Regions from separate parts of the Homo sapiens genome. Here region 1 is linked to region 2. The links come from fine-mapping of genetic effects on gene expression. A gene starts in region 2. The other region holds a variant in brackets. All regions are shown on one strand. Distances are between the middles of the regions. Region 1 overlaps NLN (neurolysin). Region 2 holds the start of PPWD1 (peptidylprolyl isomerase domain and WD repeat containing 1).

Region 1 (10,927 bases), 170 kb before region 2:
CATTGGATTGGCAAAAGGCTTGACAACAACAAGAGCTGCTAAGGACAGTGGATCAATGGCTACTCATGAATACTATATGGAGAGAAGGAAGTAAATTAGTATAACCACTTTGGAAAAAGAATTGGGCATTATTTGGTAAAGTTGAGAATGTACATCCTACAACCTAGTAATTGTTCTCTTAAATTCATACTCTTACACATATGTATCAGGAGACATTATAAGAATATTCATAGCAATATTGCTTGTAATATCAAGAAAATGGAAGCCCAAATATTCATTGACAAAATAAAAAGTAAATTTTTGGAATAGTCACACAATGAAATATCTTACAACAGTAAAAATGAACCATATCCATGTGAAACTAGTTTCATTATGCAAAACTAAATCATATGTTGTTTAGGGAAATATACATTTGTTGTAATGTTTATAAAGAAAAGCAAGAGGACAGCAATTACAAAATTCAAGACTGTGGTTATCTCTGGTATGAGGAAAGGGACATGGTTGAAGGGGGCACTCAAGGAACTTCAACGGTACTAGAAATATCATTTTACATATAGATATATTTTTCATACTAGAAATATCATTTTATATATTGACACATTTTTCATCCTTTTAGTCACATGTATATACGTATATGCATTACATTTTTTGTGTATAATATTTCATAACTCTTAAGATAAATGAATAAGTATTAGGCTCTGGAAATGGGAGAGAAAGAAAAGAATGTTCCAAATAAGAGATCAGCTTATGTTAATTTAAGGCCAGGAGATAAGGACATAAACTCTCTGGCTGAAGCATTGAGTTCACTGAGTGAGAGGAGAAGCTGGGAGAGCTACACAGGGGTCAGACTGTATAGGGATTTCTAAACCACAAGAGAGTTTTGATTGTTTAATGACAAGTAAAGAAAAATTGCAAACTGAAGTATGACATGTCACATTTGTAGTTCCTAAAGATCTCTATTTTCATAAGGAAAATATATTAGTGGTAAGCAAAAATTGATGCTGGGACTCATGATGAGGAAGATTTGGATTATGATGGTGATACTGGGAACAAAGAAAGGAGAAAGAATGTGAAGACTATCCAGGACTTGGTGTTGGTGGAAAAGGTAAAGGAAATAGAGAAAAAAGCAAGGAATGGCTCCTAGGCTTTGGACTTGCGTAAATGGTGACACTGAGGCAAAGAACAATGGCAAAAAAGCAAGCCAGGGGAATTCCGTCAATTTAGGAAAAGGTGATATTGAGATTCAACAACATAATAGGTGTTCAATAAGTATTTATTGTATTAGTCCATTCTCATGCTGCTATGAAGAAATGCCCAAGACTGGGTAACTTATAAATGAAACAGGTTTAATTGATTCACAGTTCAGCATGGCTGGGGCGACCTCATGAAACTTAGAATCATGGCAGAAGGGGAAGCAAACACCTCCTTATTCATGTGGTGGCAGGAAGGAGAAGTGCTGAGCAAAGAGGAAAAAGCCCCTTATAAAACCATCAGATCTTGTGAGAACTCAGTATCATGAGAACAGCATGGGGGTAACTGCCTCATGATTCAATTTGGGTGGGGACACAGCCAAACCATATCACTTATAAGATAAAAAAGTGGCTGACTGTGAGACCTCAGGAGCTGTCCAATTGGTAGTTGGAATCTAATATCATTCATCTATTTCTTTTTTAAATAAATAATTTGTGGTTCCCTATTTTGTATCTTGGCAGAGGAGAAAGCTACGAAACCTTAAAAAGAATTCCTATGAGAATAAAAATAATGTATAGATGTATAAATCTCAGTGTTAGAATAGTTAGATCTATGTAGCCCTGACAGTATGGACCTTATACATTGTAGCAAGCAGGCTTCATCAACCTGTGATTATTTCAGTCACTACAACTCCACCTGAGATGTGAGGCAGAAATAGAATTTTCCTTTCGGTGTTGACCACAAGTGGGATTAAATATTAAAGATACCAGCAAAATATGGCTGGGAAATATGAGGACTTCCTCTTGAATGCCAAACAGGAAGCATAGACAATCTCAGAGTGGGCAGAATGGGCAGAGTCTTTCTTTTTTTTTTTTTCCATTCAGGTTCCATTTATTTTTGACATTTTTAAATAACCATCCGTGCGAGGGTAACTCCTGCATCATTCTAGAACTTCAGGTTCCATTTCTGAGTCTAGGAAACAGGTCCCTGAAGGCTTTATTGATGCCAAGTCAGCATTTTCACCCAGTTCTGCCCCCAGCTGAGTCACCTTTGTTTTTCCACTCACAGTCAGCACGTGCCTGAAACACATGACCGTGTGCTTCCTTTAAGATGCACCTGACCGGGCCAGGCTGCTCATGCCTGTAAACCCAGCACTGTGGAAGGCCAAGGTAGTCAGATCACTTGAGGTCAGGAGTTTGAGGCCAGCCTCCTCCAACATCGTGAAACCCTGTCTCTACTAAAAATACAAAAATTACACTTTGGGAGGCCGAGGCGGGTGGATCACGAGGTCAGGAGATTGAGACCATCCTGGCTAACTTGGTGAAACCCTGACTCTACTAAAAATACCAAAAATTAGCTGGGTGTGGTGGTGGACACCTGTAGTCCCAGCTACTCTGGAGGCTGAGGCAGGAGAATGGCATGAACCCTGGAGGCAGAGGTTGCAGTGAGCCGAAGTCGTGCCAGTGCACTCCAGCCTGGGTGACAGAGCGAGACTCCGTCTCAAAAAAAAAAAAGAAAAAAAAATACAAAATTAGTTGGGTGTGGTGGTGCATGCCAGTAACACCAGCTACTAGGGAGGCTGAGGCAGGAGAATCACTTGAACCTGGGAGGTGGAAGTTGCAGTGAGCTGAGATTGTGCCACTGCACTTCAGCCTGAGGGACAGAGCGAGACTCCATCAAAAAAAAAAAAGCACCTGTGTCCTAGATTTTAGTGCCCAAGGGTCCAGAAGAAAGCGTATCCATCCCACTAATCAGGCCTTCCCTAAGAGCAAAGATGGAGGTCCACTTTCTCAGATGGCCATGAGCCACAGGAAGGGCAGGGGACGGGACCAAAAAAGATCCTCTTGGGCTGCCTGACTTCCCTGACTGTACACATCAGCTCAGCCCGAATTGGGGCAAGGATCTCCCAATTGGCATGACCCCTGTTGTCAAGACTCTCCAGATGGGAAGGATACAATTCCAGGCCTAACTTGCTCAGCCCGCCTGTGTGACACAGCAGGTCTTTCAGAGCATTCATGGAGGTCTCGTTTCCATGAAAGTAGAAGGTGGTGAGCTGGGAGCAGTGGCTCAGGGCAGGCAGGAGGAGCCTGAGTTGGGAGTCCTGGATCTGACAGTCCTTTAACGTGAGGGTCTCGAGAGTAGCAGCAACTTTCTCTAGCAGAGCTCCAAGGGGCTCAAGATTGGTGGTCCACATTAGGATATGAATCAGATGCAGCTCCTTTAGCTGACTGAGGCTTGGTTACTAAGACAGACACTCCATGTCCCGATCAGCTAGGTAAGCATGACAGAATATAAAGGCCCCCAAGAGGTTCTTGAGGCACCTGGGGAGAGCAAGAAATTAGTTATGGGCAATGGTGCCAGTTAGAGGAGGGGGGTGGGAAATCATCTCAATGGTAAACTTGAAGTGGGCATTGAGTAATTCTGCACCTTACTACCACACAGGTGTTATAGTAACTGCAATGGGGAAGCCTGTTTCACCCAAACACAAGTTTGTTCCCATCATCAGATGATGGTCTGTGTGCAAGGTGCTGCCTGATGAAGACTCAGATCATTCAGGGGCAGCTCCATTTTAGGCTCAGTCCTTTCAGCCTTGCTTGTGTGATTGGTTCAAGGCCACAAAATCTTTAAAGCCTCTTTACTGCATCTTTCAGCAGACAACCTCATCTCTGGGCCAGAGGAGCCCAGTGGGAGATGTGCACAAAGAACTCAACTGAGCAAGGTCTAGGGACATCAGCTAGGGCCACCTGTCTGCAAAGGTTCCCTGACGTGCCCGCGTCTGCAAACCACCTATCACTTTATACCACTCTCCTGCCTACTCCCTCACCTCTGTCCAAGAAGCACGCTTTTCTCATGTCAACTACTTTTCCTGGGGTTCAAAAGAACCTTTTACAGACAGAGAATTAGAGACAGGATCATTGGTGTTTACTAAGCTGTGAGGACGGAGCTTCTACTGTGAAACGCACAGGTTTGATGCACTTTCCCTTCTTTCATACTCTCCTCTATATGAAGTGTAAGTTTCATCATATTAACTTCAAACACACTTCCTAAAAAGGAATTCACAAATGCACCCTCCCTAGATCTGAACCCCTGACTAACTAGCTCCCTGCATGTCTCTCTCTGTAGCATCTGGCCCGGGCCATCCCTCTGGGCAGAGTCTTTCTAATGTAAGCTATGGTGAACGGGAAATCCAGATTTCATAAGCTGGACTTCCTTTTATACTTCTTGCAGTTTTGCAGTTTCGGTGTTGATTTCCTTTTTGTTTCACTCAATAATTTGAAGAAGTCTTTTTAAAAAAGTCAGCCCTCATGATAGATAAAGGGTTTAAGTGTGAAAAATGAAACATAAAAGTACTAGAAGAAAATGTAGATGCTGGGTGTGGTGGCTCATGCCTGTAATCGTAGCACTTTGGGAGGCTGAGGTGGAAGGATTGCTTGAGCCCAGGAGTTTGAGATCAGCCTGGGCAACATGGTGAAACCTTGTCTCTACAAATAATACAAAAATTAGCCAGGTGTGGTGGCTCACACCTGTAGTCCCAACTACTTGGAAGGCTGACGTGGGAGGACTGCTTGAGACTGGGAGGCAGAGGTTACAGAGAGATGAGATTGTTCCACTATACTCCAGCCTGGGTGACAGAGCTAGACTCTGTCTGAAAAAAAAAAAAAAAAAAAAAAAAAAGAAAATGTAGGTGATTTTTAAAATACATAATCTTGGGGTGGAGAAGGACTTTCTAGGAATGAGACCAAAGGCAGAAATCATAAAGGAAAAGACTGATATTTCTGACTGTATAAAAATTTAAACTTTTGTAGGGATAAAGCAAAAAAGCAAAAAGCAACAATAATCTACCCCAAAAGTTCAAAGATCAAAAACAACTGAAACATCTATGAGGGGCTCTTACAAAGTAATAATCCTAATTTTAAAAATCCCAAAATAAAACTAGGCAATTCACACAAGTAAAAACAGTAACTAATATTTCTCGAGATTTTATTATGTGCCGATGTGGTAGACTGATAACTAACATGGCCTCAATTTTCTACCTGCTATGAGTCTATGTCTCTTAACAATGTGAGTTTGCTGTTCTACCCATCAAGAGATAGAGTCTGTTTCCCCACTTCTTGAATCTGGGCTAGCCTTGTGACTTGCTTTGACCAGTAGAATGTGGCAGAGCTAATGAGGTTCCAGTTCCAACTGCCTTCCACTCTCTCATGGAACCCTGCCACTGACATGAGAACAAGCCAGAGGTGGCTTCTTGGAGGACGAGACGTCACAGGAAAGAGGGCCAAATAGCCCCAGCTGTGGCCATCCTACATCACCAAACATGTGAGAGAGGATAGCAGAGATCAGCAGAGCTGCCTACACAACCCATGGCTGACTGAAGGAGCATGAATGAGTTAAGATCAGAAAAACTGCCCAGCCAAAATCTAGATTTGTCAGCAAAAATAAACATTGATCATTGTACTCCACTGAAATTCAGTTTGTTATACAGCATTTTTGTGGTAATAGGAATGGATATAACCAGGCAATGTTCAAAGTGTTCTATATTTGTTTCAATCTTAAAAGGTGAGTACAGGCCAGGCACGGTGGCTCACGCCTGTAATCCCAGCACTTTGGGAGGCAGAGGCAGGTGGGTCACTTGAGGTCAAGAGTTCCAGCCTGGCCAACATGGTGAACCCCTGTTTCTACAAAAAATACAAAAATTAGCTGGGCATGATGGCGGGTGCCTGTAATCCCAGCTACTCAGGAGGCTGAGGTGGGAGAATTGCTTGAACCCAGGAGGAGGAGGTTGCAGTGAGCTGAGATTGCGCCATTGCACTCTAGCCCGAGCAATAGAGTGAGACTCCATCTAAAAACAAACGAATAAAACAAAAAAAAAAAAAGAAGAAAATAGAAAAAAAAGGATGAGTCCAATTTTTCCCTGTCTCATCTCCTACTTACTTGCCTGACATTTATTCCATGCTAGTCACAATGGTCTCTTTACTTTCTCAAAAACACCAGGCATAGCCCTGCTTTCAGAGCCTTGGTGTGTGCCGTTTCTCCTGCTTAGAATGACCTGCCTCAGGTATTCACATAGCACAACTGCTCATTTCTCTTAGATCATTACTCAAGTATTAATATCACTTTCTTGGTAGCCTTTCCTGTTGACTCTACAATTTCCTTCCTATCGGTACTGAGCATTCCCCTTTCCCATTTTACTTTTGCTCTGCAGCACATTTTCCCATCTAACTTACTTTATATTTTCCTTAGTTGTCTCTCCCACTGGAATGTAAGTTCCATTAATGCAAAGATTTTTATCTGCTTTGTTCATTGCTATATCCCCAGACCAAGAATACTATTTCGCATATAATAGACAATAAATATTTGGTGAATGAAGAAATCAGCCAATCAATTATCAATTTACTGAGGAGGAAACAGATACGGAGAACTTAAGTATTCTTGCCTAAGATCACAATGCTAGTCAGTGGCAAAACCAGCATTCAAACTCAGGCGAGCTGTTTCTAGATTTATATAGTCGACTCTATGATGCTACATGCACTTTGCAATGCGGCAGCTTGGCATTTACATATGTATTCAATACACATCAGTTTCCTTGGTTCTTCATATCTTTAATTCAGGGGATTCTTCCCAAGTAAGTCCTGTGCTTTGTCTTAACCAAAGAGGTGATAATGTTTAACTCTGAGAAAGAACCAGGTTGCTTCTGACCAAAACCAGGGTTAAAGGACAAACAAAAAAGAAAGAAATCAATCCTCGGCGGAGCACGGTGGTTCACGCCTGTAATCCCAGCACTTTGGGAGGCCGACGCGGGTGAATCATGAGATCAGGAGTTCGAGACCAGCCTAGCCAACATGGTAAAACCCCGTCTCTGCTAAAAATACAAAATATTAGCTGGGCGTGGTGGCAGGTGCCTGTAATCCCAGCTACTCCGGAGGCTGAGGCAGGAGAATCACTTGAACCCAGGAGGCGGAGGTTGCAGTGATCCAAGATCGTGCCACTGCACTCCAGCCCGGGCAACAGTGCAAGACTCCATCCTAAAAAAAAAAAAAAAAAAAAAAAGAAAAGAAAACCTATTTTATAACCAAATCCATTTGTACAAATAATGTCAACCTAGCTCTTGATACTTTAACTTAAAAAACCCTTTCTTTACTAGATTTTTTTCCCCAATACTGTTCTCTTAACATTTTGGAGATTATGCCTACTGGTTTTAGAGGAATAATCTCAATTTTATTTAATTACACTTAGACCTGTAAATATTGTTAAGTTTATTAATAACTGTAATTTAGGCTGGGCCCAGTAGCTCATGCCTGTAATCCCAGCACTCTGGAAGGTTGAGGCGGGCAGATCACTCGAGCCCAGGAATTAGAGACCAGCTTGGGCAACATGGCGAAGCCCTGTCTCTACAAGAAATACAAAGATTAGCCGGGTGTGGTGGCAAACACCTGTAGTCCCAGCTACTCGGGAGGCTGAAGTGGGAGGAT[C/T]GTTTGAGCCCGGGAGGTCGAGGCTGCAGTGAGCCATGATCATGCCACTGCACTCTAGCCTGGGCAACCAAGTGAGACTCTGTCTCAAACAAACAAACAAAAACACCAAGAAAACTGTAATTGAATTTGTCTGACTTTCTAAGATTTTCCATATAAATAAATTTTCACATCAGACAACAAATAACTTTTTGGTTTCCAGACCACAACTCCTGAATTTTTGTTTAGGAATTATACTCACTGAATAAACCTTCCAAAAATGTATGAAAATGCAAATTATAATAAGAGAAATTTCCACTTATCAAACTGGTAAGGATAAAAAAAATTAAAATGCTCAATGTTGGTAACAGTATAGGAAACCAGCATTTACTTACTCACCTGGTAAGGTTATAATTTGGGAGAAAGTTTTTAGAATAGAATAAGATGATAAGTACCAAAGACCTGAAAGGTATGCATGCCCTTTGATGTACAAATTCCATTTGTAAGAATTTATACTAAGAAAATAACTAAAGATTTGGAAAAGGACAATAGGAATGTTTATCCAAGCACTATTACTCATTGCAGGAAGTTGGGAATAGTTGACATTTCTAAAGGCGTATATTAATCAAATTGCATACATCCCCAAAAGGAATATATTATAGCTATTTATATTTTAGGGGATGTTTGTATAATATTAAAAATTATAAAAGAATAACAATATCATATTTATAAAAAGAAAGTCTGTTCATAGAGGAAATTTTGAAAGCTGTTAAGAATTGGCTGTTCCAGGTGGCTGGATTATATATATATTTAATATTTTCTTTTGCTTGTCATTACTTGCTAAGTTTTCAATAATGAACACGCATTGCTGTCATCATTTTAAAAAACCAAGCTGTGTTTTTTAGGCCAGGTGCAGTGGCTCACGCCTATAATCCCAGCACTTTAGGAAGCTGAGGTGGGCAGATCACTTGAGGTCAGGAGTTCAAGACCAGCCAGGCCCACATAGTGAAACCCCAGCTCTACTAAAAATACAAAAAATCAGCCAGGCGTGGTTGTGGGGACCTGTAATCCCAGCCACTCAGGAGCCTGAGGCAGGATAATTGCTTGAACCCAGAAGGCAGAGGTTGCAGTGAGCCGAGATCATGCCACTGTATTCCAGCCTGGGCAACAGAGCGAGACTGTCTCAAAAAAACAAAAACCAAAAAACAAACCAAGCTGTCTTTTCTAATTGCAAGAGGAAGCTAGGCTATTACAGCTATTGTTTCGGCTAAATATTGTTGAGTCAACCTTCTCGTTTGTTTCTTTGACCATGTCACTCATCCCTCTTATTCTATAATATACATTAGGCTTTGCTTGGGTCACATGCTGTACAATCTGAGGTAGGAGGAGGAATTCTCCTGGTTTGCTATGGCAATATAGAGGTTTTTTGCTTTTTGTTTTTTTTTTAAGGCCTTAGCTATTATTTAGTCTAGTCCTTTTCATTTTACAATATAAGGAACCTGGGCCAGGCATGATAGTACACTCCTGTAATCCCAGCACTTTCAGAGGTTGAGATGGGAGGATCATTTGTGGCCAGGAATTCTAGACTAGCCTCGGCAACATAGCAAGATCCTATCTCTACAAACAATTTTTTCAAATTAGCTGGGCATGGTGGTGAGCGCCTGTAGTCCCAGCTACTCAGAAGGCTGAGGCAGGGAGGATTGTTTGAAACCAGAGTTTGAGACCGCAGTGAGCCATGATCATGCCCCACTGCACTTCAGCCTGGATGACAGAGTGAGACCTTGTCTCTAAAATACATACATACATAGGTACATAACTTGAAAGAGGTCCAAGGGAGTGAGTGATTTTTTTAAGGTCACAAAGTGAATTGAACAGCAACTATAATCCAAACTCCAGATTCTCAGTCCACTTATTCCCAAGAAGTTGGCTGAACACCCCAATCAATGATCCTAGCTGGAAGCTGGCCTTGGGAAGGGGATATAGCAGCTCTGCCAACAAGAAAACCCAATGGAAACTGTAAGTCAGTTAGGCAAAAGCCTAGTTACTCCATAACACTAAAATGAACTCCCAAGTGTCAGAGGAAACAGGAAAAACAGGAGAACACAGGGGGTCCTCCATGTTGTCTAATATGAACTCTTTTGGAAGATACTGATTTTGAAACAGAGCAGATTCTGTGATTAAGTCAAGGAAGCCCTGGGTTAAGGACTACCATATATGATGATTAACTGTAAGATATGCCCTTATGTAACAAATTAGTTAATATATTTATGGTAGCTTCTAACAAGGTAATAATTTTTTGGCTATTAGTATATTTATTTTCTTCCATGCATAAACAAAGAATCTAATACCACATATCGGCAGCTCTCAAAATGTAGTCCACAAACCTTAAAGGTAGAGGTATGGGGAGGGGTTCCTGAGACACTTTCAAGGAATCTGTGAGGTTAAAAATCTTTCATAACAATACTAAGACATTATTTATCCTTTTTACTTTATGAACATTTGCACTGATGGCGAAAAGGAATGGTGGATAATACTGTTGGTACTTCAGCACAAATTGAGGCAATGACACCAAACTATACTAGTAGCTATATTTTTCATTGCCATGCACTCAGGCTAAAAATAATGTCAATTTCATTTTAGAATATCCTTAATGAAATGGTAAAAAGTATGAATTTTTATTAAATCTCTACCTTTGAGTTATATGTGACCAAGTACACACAAAGCATTTCTGCTGTGTACCTGAGTATAAGGGTTGTCCTGAGGATTTGGTTGCCCAAATCAAAAGCACTTTTGCAATTGGTTGAACTGTGAGCTGAAATAGATTTTTTTCATGGAAAACCATTTTTTTTTTTTTTTTTTTGAGACGGAGTCTCGCTCTGTCGCCCAGGCTGGAGTGCAGTGGCACAATCTCGGCGCACTGCAAACTCCACCTTCCGGGTTCACGCCATTCTCCTGCCTCAGCCTCCCGAGTAGTTGGGACTACAGGCGCCCGCCACCACGCCCGGCTAATTTTTTGTATTTTCAGTAGAGACAGGGTTTCACCGTGTTAGCCAGGATGGTCTCGATCTCCTGACTTCGTGATCCACCTGCCATGGCCTCCCAAAGTGCTGGGATTACAGGCGTGAGCCACCGTGCCCAGCCCATGGAACACCATTTTTACCAGAAAAAAACTACTGACAGACAAACCAGGGTTATTCAGACTTAAGTATGTGGCAGAAATTCTGTCAAAAATGTAACAAAGTGAGATTGTCACTTCAAGTAAAACAACTGACAGTTTGTGTTACCAATGA
Region 2 (12,587 bases):
ATCCCACTACCAAAAATGTCTTGGCTGGTGATTTAGACAGTTTTGGATTCCTTGCTCAAAAGTAGCAGAGACACAGAATGGGGAGGAACAGCTAAGAATAGTTACTTATTTTTTCTCTTTCTGACCTCATCAGTATAATGATAGTTCTAAGGATCTGTCAAAACATAAGAAAAGAACTGCATATAGCAGCACACTTATTTCTCTTGGGCAGATAAGGAAACCTAATCAGATCTGGACCTTAAGATCTTCTGGGACATTGCTTTTTGGATCTCTGTACAACAGTCTATGTATAACTTACTTTAAAATAGATTAGCATGTAATAGTGTATTTTATAAATCCTTTCTTGAAATATTTAAATCAAATATTTTATTATGACAATACGTCAAAGAAAAACACTGTCCTAAAACACTCTCATTACTAACTAAATCTTGATATTAAAACTCAAAGCTTTAAACATTCTACCTGATGAACAAGGCATAACAGAATTCAGACTGATCTAATCAATTGTACTAAAACACTCAAAAATGAATGTTGTTTCCTTCAAAGTAGAGATTCGGAGAAGTGACACTATTATTCTAACCACGGTGCTGATGTTCAAAACCTTCCAGACCTCTTCTTCAAGAATTTCTATCAAAGTCTGAAATATACTCTTCCAAGTATTCTCAAAGGGCAAACATTCAATATCTGTGAATGGAAAGCTTTGAGGAAACAAACCTGGGGAGTAGGACAGGTGATCAAGACAGGTATGTTTGTGCCATTCTAACCATAAATAATGAGATTTATTTCCTTTAGTGGCTCATAAAGTCATAAACTGATTTTGAAGGAAATTCTAAGATGTGAAATTATTTGAATTGTGGGCATAATTCAGCCCACAGTTGGAATTCCATCAGTTGGAATTTCTAGAGACATGGTCTTCAGGAGGTAATTAAGGTTAATGAGCTCATAAGAGTCAGGGTGGGGTCCTAATCTGATGGGCTTGTAGCCTTATAAGAAGAAAAAAAGATCTCCCTTTCCTTCTTCCCTCTCCCTTCCTTCTTCCTCCAACCATGGGAGAACATAGGGAGAAGTAAGAAAGACAGCCCTCATCAGAAATCAAACCCTGATGGAACCTTGATCTTGGACTTTCCAGCCTCCAGAACTGTGAGAAAATAGATTTCTGTATTTAAGTCACCTAGTCTATGGTTTTTTTGTTATGGCATCCAAGCAGACTAAGGCGAGTCCCAAAACTTTCTGACACTGTTATGACTTTCAAGCTGACATTCATTTAGATGTGTATAAATTCTATGTTATCTTAAAAAAGACATGCTTAAAACAAAGTATCAGTCTTAATACTGTACAATCTAACCATAGTTTTAGTATCAATATATTCCAAAGTTTAAAGTCACCAATAAATAGCTTTAATTCCAAAAATGTGAATAAATCTTATAGGAACTCAATTCTATATTACTGAAATAAGTAAAGCAAGGAAGTTAACTGTAACTACCAGTAATTAGATATGACAGAGCTCCAGTAATATTACTAAGTAATGTCAATTTGGATATAAGGAATCCTTGTTATGATGCTGTTTAGAAATTTCTGTGATTGATAACAAATCATAGCAGATGCTTCCAAACATTATAAGGCTTCACTGTATCTAATTTTCCAAGCAAAACCCAACAGCACATTTTATTTAAAGATATGGTAATATACTATTTAGAAATAACCTATTAAATGGTAAAGTCTGATTTACAAATTACTTCAATAAGTTAAAATATATATACTTTTAAAAAGACTCACCCAAGTTTCAGCATGTTGATCATGTCAAAGTTCACTACATCAAACACCTTCATTGCTTTATCATCACCCACAGAACAGAACAATGCTCCCTCAGAGCTAACTGCAATACTCTCAATAACTCCTATTTCAATAAATGAAATTAAAACATTCTAGTAAATAACAGTAAAATAAGTGTGCATGATTCAAAGAAAAAAAATTTAAAAAATTTAAACTTTAATTAGTATAGTTTAGGAAAGAGCTACAAGAAAATGAGGTGCAATTCTTACCCAGGTGACTACGAAAATGTTTAACAAATTCAATTCCCTCTTCTATTTTTTTCCAGAACTTGACATGTCCATCATGACTGGCAGTAATAATAAAATCTGTTCTGCATATATGAAATGTTAAAAGTTAATTTCTAAGACAGATCTATGAATCACTTAGTATTCCCAAAGCAATCATTCACTAAGAATCTGACTTGTGCATAATAGGTTTTTTTTTAAAAAAAACCCTTCTTTAAGCAGACCACTATATTACAGAACACTGCAAATTTTGAAACTCCTTTCTGGATGTCAAAACAGTTACAGCTGTACTAATTTTAACCTCAAGAGCTAGGATCAGAATTGAACTAGAATTTGACATTAAAATAAAAATCTCACTAGGAATCACTACACTTTGGATTCCTTATTGCTAAAATTACCCTACAGACAGTCTTTTCACAAGAAAATAAACTATTTGTCAGTAGCTGATAAGTAAATCTAAACATACTACTTTCATACGCAACAAAATTCAACAAAAGTTTTTTTTATATCCTATACAAGGTATTTTGGTTACTTAAGTATCAAAAAGATTTTGTACAGAAGAATCTTTCCTATTAGGTATGTAAAAATAGAAATCATTTATGGAAACCCAGTATATGTCAGGTACTTTGTACATATTACCTTAGTTAATTTTACAGCAACTCTACGTATTTTTATCATCATTTTATAAGTAGGAAATAGTTTTAAAATGTTAAATGTACTTGCCTCAGGTCCATATAGCTAGAGTGGCTTTCAATCTACCACACCACAAAACCTATATTCTCTGTATTACCTTCCATTGTCTTGGGTTAAAAAAACAAAACAAAAATATTTGAGAAGAGAGTGACAGCAATGCTAATATGTATATATATACTGTTTTACCACACTGATAACTTGAGACTAGAAAAGGTGCTAATATTTGGTCAGAATTATCCTATTTTACATGAAATATAAATATTTTATTTAGATTTATATATGAAATTAAATTTGTCTTCAAGACATCAAGAATAGACTGATCTAAAAAAGTGTAAAGTAATCCACCTACTTCCCATACTCACTGCTAGTATCATCCAAGCCACCATATCTCATCCAGATTTCTATACCAGCTTCCTAACTTATCTCCCTGTATCCATTCTTGCCCTGTTTGAATCCATTCATCTCACCACAGCCAGGGTGGTCCTTTAATAAAAATAAATCTGATGATGTTACTCTCCTGCTCACAGGTTCAAAACCCGTACAAGAAATAAAAAGTCTTCTAGGATTTAGCCCTTGCCTTTTAAATAGCAGCCTAATATGCTATCTAACCTCTCTAAACTTCAGTTTCGTCATCTCTAAAATGAAGAGCATGTACTAACTCACAAGATTATCCTTATGATAAATAAGAAAATTTATGAAAAAGCCTTAACTTGATAGATAAAAAAAGAAAAAGCCTTAGCATAGTACCTGGGACATACTATAAGCTCAACAAACAGTAGAATATTACTACAGTTTGAGTATCCCTTATCCAAAATGTATCGGACCAGAAGTGTTTTGGAGTTTCAATTTCTCAGATTTTAGAATATTTACATTATACTTGCTGGTTGAACATCCCTAATCAGAAAATCTCAAATGCTCCAAAGAGCATTTTTTGAGTATCATGTTCAGCACTCAAAAACTATTGGATTTTGGAGCATTTTATATTTGGGGTGCTCAACTTGTACTATTATTATCCTTCTACACGAACCTACTCATCTGTTTTGAAGGTCCTTTGCTATTCCTAGGGTATGTTAGCCCACATTTTCTCCACTAGTGCCAAAGAGGCCAGGTACCAGTTACTCATATCTTAACTAATGTACCCTCTTCTTCAGGGAAGCTCAGACACTACCTGGTTCACTCCCCTCTTGGCATTTATCTCCAAAGACATACATATAAACTCAGGGGTTCTATCTTAGAGAATGCATTATTTGTACGATATAGGAAAGAACATGTAGGCCTTTATTTCAGAACTTAAGAAATTAAAAATCTACAAAATCTTAAAATTATCTCTATAAATCTACCTCAAAATTGAAGCTTTTTTTTTTTTTAAATAAACTCAGAACAAAGTAAAAAAGATGTGATAGACTTACTTGGTGCATACCACATGGGTGATAACATCTCTATGCATGTAACTGCGCTCATACATGGATGCACTGGGGAGATTATCAAGATAGACTCTTTCAAACTCTAAGACTGAAGAAAAAAAAGTAAAGTATAAGATCTATTTTTAACAAATAAACCAAATACTATTTTGTATTTTCTTTATTTAAAATTGTCTACACTCTACTTGGTATTTTCTCCTGGATTTTAGTTTTTCTCAATTCACAATTAAAAAATCCAGTATGTTATCTCAGTTTTAACGTCTATTATTTCAGAGCACTGAATAGCGTCATTATTTAGTCAGTTACAACAGGTTCCCAGGTACTATATACATGCTAACTGTCCCCAGGACTTAAGAAATGAGTGCTTCTGGCTTAATGTGAATGTTCTATTAAAAAAAAAGAAAAGAAAAAAGAAAGAAAAAGGAAAAAAAATTAAAAAGTTCCATGAAAATATCACAACCATCTTCCTAACATTGTAGACATAATTTAGTGCTAACTTAAAAGAGTCCAGTGGCCATCTGTAAGATGTCTCAGTTAATATTTAAAGCACTGATTCTCTTTCAAGTTATTGACACTGTGTTTGAAACATTTAAACATGGTAAAATTCTTAGATTTTTATGCCTGAGAACATCCTAGGGAGTATCCAGTTGAATGTATCTCAAATTTTTTCCAACGGCAAAACCTGGAAAAAATCCACCTGAAAGAGTAGTAATCTGAGGAATGTCAGGAAATACTGATTTATTATATGAGGTATGAACAATTTTACTAGCAAAAAAAAAAAAAGAAAGAAAGGGATGGAGAGAATGAGGGAGGGAAGTAAGGAAGGAAAGAAGGGAGGGAAAGAAAGACGAAGGGAGGGAGGGAGAGAAGAAGGAAGAGAAAGAAGGGAAGGAAGGAGGGAACGAGGGGAGGGGAGAATTATATGTATCCCAAATAAAATAACTGAACGATGACCAAACGTGCCTAAAAAAAGTTGCTAAATTAAACATGACGAGCTGTTTCAGGCTTGTGTCTGATAAACTACTTTTCCCTTCATTTTTAGGAACAGAACCCCCATTTATATATGGGCATACTGATGTCCAGATATAACATGACCTTTCTCACTTTCCCCTGGAGTGAGGTTTAACCATATGCTAATGAGTAAAAGTGGAAATGTTTTGTCACAGGAAGTCTTGAAAAAGTGTACCCTTCTTCCTTTCCTCAATCCTATAGCTTGGAACTGGGATATAACTGCTGTAATCTTAATAATCATTCAGAGAAATGAAGATGAGGGCTGTACCTTAGTTATGTTGGGCAGAAAGCTGGAGAGAGCCTAGGAACTTCTGGAGCCTCCACACCAATCCTGGACTGCCTGCCTGTCTTGGTACTTCTACACATAAAAGTACAGCTCTATCTCTTCAACATCGTTATTTTGGGTTTTTCTGTAGTATGTAGATAAACTTAATCCTATCTGATCCAGATTCCTTTTTCTGTGTGATAGTTCACTTGTGGACAAATACTTACTAAGAACACAATACGTTCTAGGTCACATGGGCATAAAGAAGAGTAAAACACAGTTCCTGTCCTGAAGAGATATAGTGCTATATAATCATGTCTTTCTGAAAATATATACAACAGTCCAATGTCCAAAGAACATGTTAAAGGGGGTGACTCCATTTCTAGAAAGCTGAAATTGTTAAATACTTGTCCATTTAGACAAAATTTTAAATATTTTTGTAACATTCTATGTATGTTTTTTAGTTTCAATTTTTTTCTTCAAACTGAATAAACTATTGGCTTTTTTTTTTTTTTTTTTTGAGACGGAGTCTTGCTCTGTTGCCCATGCTGAAGTACAGTGGCACAATCTCAGCTCACTGCAACCTCTGCCTCCTGGGTTCAAGTGATTCTCCTGCCTCAGCCTCCTGAATAGCTGAGATTATAGGTGTGCGCCACCACGCCCGGCTAATTTTTTTGTATTTTTAGTAGAGACTGGCGGGGTTTCACCATGTTGGTCAGGCTGGTCTAGAACTCCTGACCTGATGATCTGCCCGCCTCAGCCTCCCAAAGTGCCAGGATTACAGGCATCAGCCACCACACCCGGCCAACTATTGGCTGTCTTAAAACAATAAATAACTGATTAAGAGGAAAGATTTTCACACCTACTAATTTATATCTGTCTCCGTTATATTAAGTTTATAAGACACTTGTCCGGTAACACTAATATCAGCATTTCGATATTTCTGGATTTTTACATTTCTCCTTACTCGTTTAATTAAAAAAGAACTTGCAAAAATATTCATATGCAACAAAATAGCTAAAGACCAGCATAAAAGCTTTAATATGCAGTCATTAAATACTTAGGCAAAGCACTGTACACCAAGCAATGAAACAAAAAAGGCGTGATTCTGGTTCTTACTTGTTTACAGTCTTAGCAGTGGAGAGAAACATTCATCAATCACATGAATAAATATATAATTAGAAACTGCGGCAAGTGCCATAAATAAAATGGTTACTATGGAAACATTTAATAAGAGGACCAGGAAGTAAAAATGATAATGCACTGTAAGGGTGTCAATATACAACGTTCAAAAAAACAGCTTCTTCAAAATTTGGATACATAAAATTTGAAGGCTACCTGTAAATTCAGTATTGATATATAACTACCTCAGAGTTATGATCAAAGTGCTTCAGAAATCCAGTCCAGACTGGAGAAGTCACAGGCTTCCCAGAGAAGATGATAGCTAAGTGCTAAAGGTTGACCAAAAGTCAGTTCAGTGGAAGAGTTGAGGGAAATTATTCCCGGTAGAAACACCATATCTGGGTAGGAATCCAGAGGAAAAAAAAGTACAAGACCGATTCTCGAGTGATTTTAGAATGGGTGGAGTACAAAGTAAGGGGTTGGGAGAGGAAGGTAATGGAAGATGCACTAAGAAGGTAAGGAGAGATCACATCATAAAGGGCTTTATATGCCATGTGAGGGAGTTTGGGCTTTAATGAAAATAATGAGCTGGGCGCCGTGGCTCATGCCTGTAATCCCAGCACTTTTGAGAGGCCGAGGCAGGCAGATTACGAGGTCAAGAAATCAAGACCATCCTGGCCAACATGGTGAAACCCCGTCCCTACTAAAAATACAAAAATTAGCTGGGCGTGCGCCTGTAGCCCCAGCTACTCGGGAGGCTGAGGCAGGAGAATCGCTTGAACCCCGGAGACGGAGGTTGCGGTGAGCCGAGATAGCGCCACTGCATGCGCTCCAGCCTGGGCGACAGAGCGAGACTCCGTCTCAAAAAAAAAAAAAAAAAAAAAAAAGAGAGAGAAAATAATGACAAATCATTGAAGTTTTTTAAGGGAAGGTGCTAAAGTACGATTTGAGCTTAGACCACATTTAAAATGTCTTAAATACTTAAGGAAAACATTTCACAGAAAAACAAGATAACAAAACAACAAAGACAAGAAAACTTAATCTACCCCTTTTCCCACCCCTTTTATTTGATAATAATTTGTGATTATTCCTCGTTAGTGACAAAAAGACTCAGCCCATCGTATCAAGAGCGTGATTTCAAAACCACAGACTTCGGGTTTTGGATGAAAACAAATCTGTGATCTAGGAAGCTTACGTCATTTTCCCTAGATGCGAAAATTTATTAGTGGAAGTGTCAGAGTTGAAATTATCTTTACCTACCATGATTCGAAATAAGCACCGCCTTCCTCTCGCGCCCCAACACATTAATACATTAACACCACTCCTGAACTAAAGCCTTAAAGAGAACTGGTACCCTTTTGCATACCTAAATAAGAGTTCGAAATTCCAACTTCATGTGGCTGCTGTGGGGAGTAAATGAGAGGAGCCAAACACATAAGAATAGGAAAATGTTAGTTTTAGCATCTGTCATAACAAATCAATGATCAAAAGTGTTAGATATTATCAAAAAGACGTTGTACTACGCTTAAATCACTATTTCGTTAAGACATGCAAGTATGGAGTAGCCAGAAGTGAGAGGACGGCCCTCTGTTCTGAGGGCACAAAACTCCACACATCATCCCTCTTCGGATCTGGCTTGAACCCTCCTACTCAGCGGACGCAGCACTCCAATTCGTCCCGGTACTATGTCTGCAGCTACCTTTCCTCTTCTTGGCCAGTGTTGCCTCCACAGGTAAAGGTCCAACCCAGCGCTCTTCGTTCTCCTCATCGTTCTCCTGGGACACCGCCACTGCTACTGCCAGCTCTCTTTCGCTGAGTTCTGTTTTTTCCGGTTCCTCCGGGTCCCGGCGCCTTCTACGTCTCTGCTGAAAATCGCTACCACTTTCCGCCGCCATGTTGTTCGCATCGTCAGAAAAGGCGCGACACAAAACTCAGCTACCAATCCCAAAGCAGCGGCGCAGTCTTCTGTCAGCGTCCGAGCGAGTTTCGGGATTGGCTGGGGTGGGAATGAGCACATCCAATGGGCATGCAGCGCGCGCAGAAGTCCGGGGCTGGCAAGCGCTTCCTGCGCAGCGCCTAGGCGACCTGGAGTTTGTGACGCTGTGATGGTAAGACCTGGGCCGGGGAGGTTGATATAACGGTTGAATCTTGTGGAGCTCCAGTCCTGAAGGTGAAACCCTTATCGCCGGCCAACTAGATACCTGACTTCCCAGCCGGGCTTTGAGTCCCGTTCTTCTCGGCTTCCCGCGCGCCAACGCAAGCTCCATAACCTCACCAATATTTAGAGAAAGATGGAAGGGTGGGGACAGAAGGAAGTGGTTAACTCGCGGGTTTCCTTTCAGATGCACTAAACATGTTTTCTCTCCTGACCTTTATTCTCTCACACACTCTCTGAAGAAGGTGGTGAGTGCTTGTTACTGTTTCTGGGGGTGGGGTGGAGAAGCAGCTACTTCAAATAACCAAAAGACCTAGGGCAGAACGGGTCACTCTTCTTTCTTCTCTCTGGTATAGGATTTCATCTCCTAGCAGTCATCTGAACTCTTTCTCCTCCTCCTCATCTGTCTTCTTCATTTTTAAAAAATTAGGTAAAAAGCACATAACATAAAATGTATTATCTTAATCTCTTTTTTAAAAAATCAAATACAGCTTGTCAAAATGACCTCCGTAAAACACTTCTTTTTTCTCTGCAATTACTTTTGCACCAACCTAATAAAATCCTCGTCGTAAATCTCTTCTCTACTTTTGCCTTGAGATAGGCACCACGTACAGGGAAGGAACTGCCCCCCCATAGTAGGCACTTTATTTTATTTCAAAGGTTCCCATTATTTGACCATTCTACCTAGCAAGTCTCATTTCTTCTCTGCCCTCTGCTCTCATCAGACTACTTTCTTTTGTGTCTCACAAATTTCCCTTGTTCGTTCTTGCCTCCTACTCTTATGTTTTTATGCTTGAAAGCATCTCCACAGCGATTTAGCCTTCATGTTTACAGCTTCTCATCTTTCAGAGACCAATGCAATAATGAGGATGAAGATGATAATGATAATGATAATAATAATGTAGCTAGTTAACATTTATTAAGCATTATTATGGACTAATTCCTTCCGGGTTGGTTTTTCTAAGCTTCCCTATCCTGAATTCCGATAGTACTTGCAGGCAGTGTTGTATACTTTACCATTTCATAGCACTTCTGACTACCTGAAATCATATCATGTATTTAGTTATCCATTCATTTATATTGTCTGCATGAGAATGGAAGCTCTACAAGTACAAAGACTTTTTCATCTACACAGCTAAAGCCAGTGTCTGACCAATGGCACACATTAACATATTTGTTGAATAAATGAATGTATTTTAGAATTATGTGGGTATTTTTTGCTTATTTCATGTATATTAATCTTTTCCCAATTAATAGTACGAGTTTCTTTAAGTATAGTATTATCCCTAAATAAAGAGATACTGTTTTTCTTCAATAAATGATTAAGTATTGTAGTCCTAACTGGGGACCTCAAAAAGTTGACTTGTTCCCTTTCCAGGAAGATAGGTTTAAGGATACAAAATGTGGGAACGGGAAAAGTTCAACTCTTAAGTGTGTGTGTGTGTGTGTGTGTTTTAATTAAACAACTGAAATTTATTTCTCACAGGTCTAGAGGCTGGAGATTCAAGATCTGGGTGCCATCATTTTCTGGTTCTGTTGATGACCCTCTTCCAGGTTACATACAGCTTACATCTTGCATCCTCAAGCGGTAGAGAGCAAACTCTTAAATGTTTCTATATGTTTTTATTCTACTGCCACATTAAATCGCCAAGCCAGATAATTTGTTGAATATTTATCCCTCACCCTCCGCCCCCACCACATGTGCAGAGTTTTGCATTACTTTTGCATATTGATAATGTATTTTGGTGGTCAGTAAAGAAATATTTATGTTTGACTTTTTCGCTTAAAAATATTCTAAAATTCATGATGACTGATTTTGGCTTTGTGAACTTAAACTGTATCTTATGGGTATAGCAGGTGAGATTTTCAGCCTTCTACTAGTTGACATTCAAATTGTTAATAGCTAACACTGATAAAGCTCTTTATATGCTAGCTACAGTACTTATATATATATATTTATATACTCATTTAATTGTCATAACCCTAGGGAGTATTTAATATTATCTTCATTTTATAGGAAAGGAAACTGAGGCATAGAAAGTTTAAGTGACTTGCCCAAGTCTCATAGCTTTTAAATATCAAAACAGATTTAAACCTGTATAGTCTGGTTGCAGAGTTCATACCTTTAAAGTTTTTTTTTCTCTAAGTAATGTGCCAGTAAACATAATTGTATAGACTTATGCAGACATATCTATCTTTAGGATTATTCCTAAGAATAGAACTTCTGGATCACAAGAAATGCATGTAAAATTTTGATGGATATTATCATACAAAGTGATTGTTCCACCAACAGTGCAAGCCTCTTATTTCACATGCTTGCCAGTATTATCTCTTACCAATTTTACATTATTGCCATTCTGAATGAAAATTAATGCTTGTTTAATTTGGATTTTCATAAATTATATATGAGCTTATGAATGTACTTTTTCTGTATTTAAAAGGTATTTGTTTTTTCTTTGAATTCCTCATTTGTGTTCTTTGCCAGTTTCTATTGAATTGTTTTTGTTGTTTACCTTTTTATTGTAAAAATGCAGACACAAAATAAACGTAAAGTTTACTAATTATTATGAGGTGAACACCCTTACCATCATGCTAGTCAAAAAATAAAACTTTGATAATTACCTCAGAAATCTCTCCATTTGGCCCATCCCAGCCACAACCCTTTTCCCCCTTCCACTCTTCCTCCAAAGTAATTGGTAACCTGACTTTTTTGGTAATCTTTTTTAAATTTTTTTTAATGGTGAGTTGTTTGGTTTCTTCTTATGAATTTGTAGGCACTTGTTATATATTAAGGAAATTAGGTCTTGGGTTGCCATATATATTACAAGTATTTCTCCTAGGTTTGGGGGTTTTAAATTTTAACTTTGTTGATGAGATGTTTGTCCATGCAGAATTAAAAAAAAAATTTTGGTGTAAAGATTTTACTTAGTTTTGCTTAGAAAGGTGTTTCCTAATCTAAGATTTTAAAAGTTTCTGTGTTTTCATCCTATTTTTTTGTGATTTCTATTTTGGGTTTTTTGAGGGAGTGAGGAATGACATAAAGATTCAGGTATGAATTTAGACTTATTTTTTTCTCCGCAAATACTATAAATGTTAAAAAAAAATGAGGAAGATTTATATGGACCAAAATATACATTTAAAAAACAGTATTATATATAAAATATATATCTATTTGGATTATTTTTTTCTCCTTGATTTGCCTTGTCATCTCTGTCATGTGTCATGTGTCCATATGTATGTGAATATAGAAAGTCAAGAAAGGCTTTGTATTGTGTTCCATTGCTCAATTTGCCTATTTATGTGCCAGTTCTACATTGCCATAATAGTGTAGGGTATGTCCTCCCATCTTATTTTTCATGAGGATCTTAGGCTAGTTTTGGCCCTTTGTGCTTCCATGTAAATTTTTTTTTTTTTTTTTTTCTGAGACGGAGTCTCGCTCTGTCGCCCAGGCTGGAGTGCAGTGGCGGGATCTCGGCTCACTGCAAGCTCCGCCTCCCGGGTTCACGCCATTCTCCTGCCTCAGCCTCCCAAGTAGCTGGGACTACAGGCGCCCGCCACTACGCCCGGCTAATTTTTTGTATTTTTAGTAGAGACGGGGTTTCACCCTTTTAGCCGGGATGGTCTCGATCTCCTGACCTCGTGATCCGCCCGCCTCGGCCTCCCAAAGTGCTGGGATTACAGGCGTGAGCCACCGCGCCCGGCCCTTCCATGTAAATTTTACAATTTGCTTGTCAAGTCCCATAAAGAGAAACAAAAACTTTCAGGATTTTGGTTAAGATTCAGTAGCTCAACTTGGGGGAGAATTAACGTCTTTACAATGTGGGTCTTTCAGTCCATGAATATGAAGTATCTTTCCATTTATT

The links. PIP is the estimated chance that this variant, and not a neighbour inherited with it, causes the effect.
Region 1: its variant is fine-mapped to the expression of PPWD1 in blood mononuclear cells (TOPMed, PIP 0.92).

What each region holds. Positions count from the first base shown.
Region 1 is chr5:65,725,682-65,736,608 of GRCh38, reverse strand. The region is part of intron 1 of NLN (neurolysin); the gene reads right to left. It also overlaps the pseudogene LOC100419549. Among named protein-coding and RNA genes, the nearest start is that of NLN, 8.9 kb to the right of the region's middle. RefSeq lists a silencer at 9,255-9,304. The variant C/T (reference allele first, on the strand shown) is at 7,662.
Region 2 is chr5:65,559,188-65,571,774 of GRCh38, reverse strand. It overlaps PPWD1 (peptidylprolyl isomerase domain and WD repeat containing 1), which reads right to left and starts at 8,479. Exons shown (of 11, transcript NM_015342.4): 1 at 8,269-8,479; 2 at 4,160-4,262; 3 at 2,043-2,143; 4 at 1,777-1,897. The coding sequence starts at 8,464. CENPK (centromere protein K) reads left to right here and starts at 8,607. Exons shown (of 11, transcript NM_022145.5): 1 at 8,607-8,677; 2 at 10,211-10,312. RefSeq lists enhancers at 8,030-8,690, 8,831-8,970, 8,691-9,352, 11,822-12,321.